Regions from separate parts of the Homo sapiens genome. Here region 1 is linked to region 2. Evidence: fine-mapped expression QTL. A gene starts in region 2. The other region holds a variant in brackets. All regions are shown on one strand. Distances are from middle to middle.

What was found. PIP is the estimated chance that this variant, and not a neighbour inherited with it, causes the effect.
Region 1: its variant is fine-mapped to the expression of PRICKLE2-DT in nasal epithelium (TOPMed, PIP above 0.99).

What each region holds. Positions count from the first base shown.
Region 1 is chr3:64,412,337-64,415,243 of GRCh38, reverse strand. No RefSeq gene overlaps it. Among named protein-coding and RNA genes, the nearest start is that of PRICKLE2-DT, 31 kb to the left of the region's middle. The variant G/A (reference allele first, on the strand shown) is at 1,333.
Region 2 is chr3:64,443,578-64,446,484 of GRCh38, reverse strand. PRICKLE2-DT (PRICKLE2 divergent transcript) reads right to left here and starts at 1,228. Exons shown (of 4, transcript NR_183714.1): 1 at 1,078-1,228.

The DNA.
Region 1 (2,907 bases), 31 kb after region 2:
CTACTGATTTTTGTACCTTGATTTTGTATCCTGAAACTTTACTGAAATCATTTATCAGTTCCAGGAGCCTTTTGATGGAGTCTTTAGGATTTTAGAATCATCATCAGTGAAGACAGATAGTTTGACTTCTTTTCCCATTTGGATGCCTTTTATTTCTTTCTCTTCCCTGATTGCTCCAGCCAGGACTTCTGCTACATCAAATTTTTTAAAAAATTGAATAAACATATTTTAATGTAATTGATTTTCCCTATAATCTGATATATCTTAATCACTCATTTTACTTTGAGAAGGTGTTCCAGGCTTTACCAGGTGCCCAAAGGCATCTAAGGTTCAGAAAAGATGAAGAACGCTGACAGGAGTTCAGGGGTGGGAGTGGGGAGTGGGAGGATGTGGCCTCAGGTATTTTTCTTGTTGCCTCTCCTTAGAAGTCTGTGAACACAGCTGATGGTTTTGGGATAGTTTTGGCTTTTCTTTTATATATGTTTTTTATTTTTGTTATTATTTGTTTTTCACGCTTGGCTTTCCATGATTTTTTTAAAAATTATTTTTATTTTTTTGAGACAGGGTCTCACTCTATCACCCAGGCTGGAGTGCAATGGTGCTATCTCAGCTCACTGCAGCCTTGACCTTCCGGGCTCAATCCATCCTCCTACCTCAGCCTTCCATACTACAATGCCCAGCTAATTTGTGTATTTTTAGTGGAGACGGGGTTTCACCATGTTGTCTAAACTGGTCTTGAACTCCTGAGCTGAAGTGATCTGCCCACCTTGACCTCCCAAAGTGCTGGGATTACAGGCAGGTTTTGGCTTCTCTCAACCACACTACTGAGTAGTCTTTATTTTTAAATCAAACTTTGCTTTTTACAAAGAAAAGCATTTTTCTGGTCGGAGATTTGTCCTCCTTACTCATGTGTTCTGTGAAGCGTCTATTTCTTTGAATCTTTTCGTACAGTCAAAATGAGAATGTCCAGAGGTGAGTCAGAGCTTCTCAAAGGACATTCGTGTGTTTCCACCTTTTCCAATAACCAACCCATTCTTCCTGTTTACTAACAACCACATAATACACACACGCATGCCCTAAGGATTCCCTTCCTCTTCTCTTCACTGCATAGTGAACATTTTCTTGCCAATCCTCCTCCTAATCAGTGTTCAAAGAGGGGAGAAGGCAAAACCAGGACATCACCAGAACCCTCCGCGAACACCTTCCTCATCAAGAGAAAACTACTATGTGCCATTTGGAAAGGGGCCAGGCCTGGCATCTCCATCTTTTCCTCCCAGACTGTATTGCTTAGAACATTTCTTCCCAAGCCCAGTCACTCATGGCCCCCTCCTT[G/A]CCTCTGGCCATGTCTAAGGACCTTTCCTATTGCAGAGAGGAGCTTCTGTGTTGTGCTTCTGTTAGGAGCTCTGGCTCGGAGCTCAGACTGCATAGGTTTCTAGCCCAAATCTACTCCTGAGCCCCTGTGTGTTTTTGGGCAAGTTGTTTCACCTCTCCAGGCCTCAGTGTCACTTTCCTTATCTACAAAGCAGGGATTGGAATAGTACCTTCCTTAGGGGGTTGCTAGGAGGACTGAGTGAGTCAATACACGAACCGTGTTGAGAGCAGTGTGTGACACGTAATAAGCATTCAGCAAGCATTGGCTATCAAAATTAGTGATTGTTGACTTAGCATTTTCTTTAAAACTAGCCCTTAAAAATCAAGATGAGCTTAATTTAGAAAGGAAACTAGTGGATAGTAAGAGGGAAAAAAAGACAAGTTTAAGAGTAGGCAAGACCATGGTTTCAGGCAGAAAGGGTTGAACTCCAAGGGCAGGAAGTGGGAATTCCTGAGCCAGGTAGAAAAGCTGGGCCTGGGCATAGTGCCTGTGGTGAAAGAGGTGGTGGGAACAAGGAGGGCTGGCAGGACCCGGGGCATCTGACTGTACATGGACATCCGGGGTTTGAGGCTGGGGAAAGACAAGCTGGATGAAAGATTAGAGAGGGTAGGGGCAGAAGTTGAGAAACACAGGTTCTGTAACTGGGGTGAGGTGCCAAGATAAAGGGTCATGGGAAGAGAGAGACGTAAGTTGGAGCCTAAGGACAAGCTCTAAGAAAGGACCTGAAGGAATGGGAGGCTGGAAGAGGCAGGGGCTGAGATTGGGGGCAGGTGGTACCTTAAGGCATAGTATTAATATATGATTAGGGTATGAGACCCAATGACATATAGTGAAGACTCTTCCAAGGGATGTGCAAGCATGGACATCCTTTTAACAAATTTTGTATTGAAATACAACATGCATAGGTAAAAGTACACAAATCATAAGTATACAAAAAGAAAATTTTTCCCCAGGTCGAACACTCAGGGCCTGGACCAAGAAACATTACCAGCTTCACTACATGGTGCTCCCATCGTCGATACGTGTGCCACACATTAGAAGACACTCAGAAGAATTAGATTGGGTGGGCATAATCCTCTTAGTAGGGACTTTGTTTTTATGCTGGAGTCATGAAATTCGGGTGCACATTGTAGCAATGAGGAGGGTTGAATAGCTCTTTCCTTAATAGTCCTAGCAATGAGTAAGGACAACTGGCCAAGTGTATGCCTAATATTTCCCCATTAGGCAAAGAAAAAAAGAAAATAACCAAACATAAAAGAAAGGGATGAGAACGAATGTTTGCTGGACCCCTACTTTGTGGTCCCTACTGTGGTAGGTGCTTATTCATATGCCTTCCCTTCAGTGCTAACAACAGCTTTACAAGGTAGGTTGCCATTTTACAGAATAAAACTGAGTCTCAGAGTCCCGGTATTGACTTCACTCACACTGCTGATAAATTACAGAACCTGCATTCAAACCCAGCTCTGTCTGGTCCTTAAAAGCTGGGACAAGTTGCTTAACTTTGCTGATCCTTATTGTTTCTCCTGTACATGAAG
Region 2 (2,907 bases):
TATAGAGATGGGTCTAGTCAGATTGCCCAAGCTGGTCTGGAGCTCCTGGCCTCAAGAGATTGTCCTGCCTCCCCCTCTGAAAGTGTTGGGATTACAGGCGTGAGCCATGCCAGGCCATGACAGCTAATCTTTAATGAGCCTGAGTTTGTGCCTGTTATAATAACTAAACATGCCCCAACTCAGCTCTCTCAACAATGGTGTGAGATAAGGACTCTTGTTACATCATTTAAAAAAATTATTATCGATAAGGAGACAGAGGCACAAAGAGGTTAATTTGGGGAGATCACCAACTAGGAAGTGATGGAAAAGGTAATGGGAAAAAAGGCACTAAAGGCGCAATGGCTTCAAAGCTTGAATGCAATGAATCAACACTTACTTAATGAGCATCTACTATATTCCAGGCATTGTACAATTACATAGGGGCATAATTCCTCCTCCTCCTCCACTTTCTCTTCCTCTCCCAACACCTAATGAACACTAGATTCTAGGCATGGTACAAACTTTTAAAATAATCCATTTTCGGGGGTGAGAGCGCCGTTCTATAGCTTGATTGTGGTGGTGGTTACAGGTCTGTACGAATTTGTCAAAACTGGCAGAACTGTGCACTAAGAAAGGGTGAATTTACTGTATGTGGATTATACCTTAAACAAACTCAACCCTCATCCTTCCATCTCCACTCCCCTACCCCAGCTACAGCGGCAGGGGGGTGTGAAACGGTCCCTGCCCCTAGGCTGGGGACAAGGGTGAGGGACGAGCCTTCAGGGGCGGGACCAGGTAAGCGCCGGGAGTTGTGCCCAGTGGGCCTAGAAGCCAGGGAAAGGGAGAAAGTGGCCCCAGCCGGGTGCGGGGGAGGGATGGGAAGAGCCGGTGGACCGCGGGGCGAACCCGGGAGGGCGGGGGGATGCCGGGAGAGAGGGAGGGACCTGCGGGCGTGGAGGGAGAGGCAGAGGGAAGGGAGGAGGGGTAGGCGTGCGCTCCGGAGCGAGCCGGGGACTGCAAGGCGGAGACAGCCAGGCCAGCGGCCGCCGAGGGTGCCCGCCCAGGCTACCCGCCCTCCCGGCCGCGGCGCGGACGGACCGACGGACGGCGCTGCGAGCAGGAGGCGTCCGGCCATGTTCAGCCGGAGCTCCCGGAAAAGACTCTCCAGCCGCTCGGTGAGTGTCCCCCGCTCGAGCGGGGCCGATCGCCGGGCACCTCCAGCCGGCCGCGAGCGCCCGCGCGCAGCCCCACTGCGCCCCGCGGCTGCGCACCTGTGGCCCCAGGTAAGCCGGCCCCGCGGGCGGGGCGCGTCCAGGGCGCGAGAGAGCGCTCCAAGGCGCGGGAGGGGTTAAGTTCCGACCCCCCGGCTGGGCGACAGTGAGACCCGAACCGTGGCCCTCAGGGTCACAGTCTGGGGGATCCCTGGAAAGCCCCCTCCCTCCGGGCAAATCGGAATCCCAGCACCAAAGCTCCAGCGTCCAGCCACTTGGAGCTCTAGCGGGGACTTTAGGGCCGTCTTTTGGGGTGTCCTCTGCTGCCCCCTTTCCGGGAGCACCAGCCCGGTCTAGGGCGGGCGCCCGATGCTCGCTTCTTGCGGACTCCAGGGAACTGAAGGGTCTTGCTTTTGTTTCTTAGAAACCCGTGACCAAGGTGTCTGGGGGAGACAAAGCCCCAGCCGTGGTCATTTCGTGGTGGTGTAGTGCCCATGCCGGAGGCAACCTGCCTGGGTCCGCGCACCCTTCCCCAAGCAGGCGGGAGACCACCCCTGGGGCACTGGCAGTGCCCCGCCCCGTGTCCCCCATACAGAAGAGGAGCAGTTGGCTCAAATCACAGGAGGTGGGGTGGGAGGGGCAGGCCATCCTGCCAGGGACACGAGTGGGGCTGTGGAGGGAGACCCCGTGGTGGAGACATGCGTGTGTTGTCTTTTTGTTTTGAAGTTGACCGGACTGGGGCGGATAGAGCGAGGCCAGCCATGTAACGCCTGTGGTGACCAGTGCCCTGGGTTCGCCTTGCATAAATGGAGGTAGGAAGCCGTAAATGCACAACACTACAGCAAGATAAAATATGCAATATGTAATATACATACATATATATATCTATAGATATATATATATTCCCCTCCGCCTTAAATCTCACTTGTAAGTCACATGGAAAGAATGCAAAGGCTGTTTCTTTAAGAGCGGAGCTACATCTGCTACAAATATTGGAGGTGGAAGTGGTGGCCAGACACTGGGAGATGCAGGAGAGCCGGGCTCAAGGCTGCGTTTCACTGATGTGAGAACTGTGGATCCCTAGCACGGGCACTATGTGTCTAGGTAACTCACTCCAAAACAATTCACCCTGGGCAAGGCAGTGTTGCCAAGTGCCACAGTGCTGTATGTGTAGGATTCCCTGGACTAGCTGGTGTTTTCCAGTTGTGTTTTTAATTCAGCGCCTGTAACTCTGGGTCCCAACCGCAAATCCATTGCTGCCCGCCTGGGCCGTGTCAACCCTCTGCGGCGGCCAGATGTTTCTTATTAAATGTGCCTTGAGTGTTGACTTCCAGGCAGCCCCAGCTTGGATTGGAATGATTACGTTTGGGAGACAAGGGAGCTGGTTGCCCTCCCAATGCATCTGGCTGCTGGGGCTCTGGTTGGGAAAAGTTGGGGTGCAGGCTTACAAGCTGTCAGTTTGCTGGTTTCAAGCAAAAGGTGAATCCTCCCTGGCGTCTTCATAAAAAGGAAAAACTGGTGACAGGAGAAAATTGTGCAATATCATAACACATTCTCTCTTGGATTAGCGCATCTTTCCCCCTTTCTCCACCACTCAAGCTGCTTATGAAGAGGGCTTTTTCTGGATGCTAGGCAGAAAAGCCTGCTTTGATTCCACACCCCGCCCCCCGCCCCCCACCCCCACCGCATTAGTGCATCTCTACTTTTCCCCATTTGT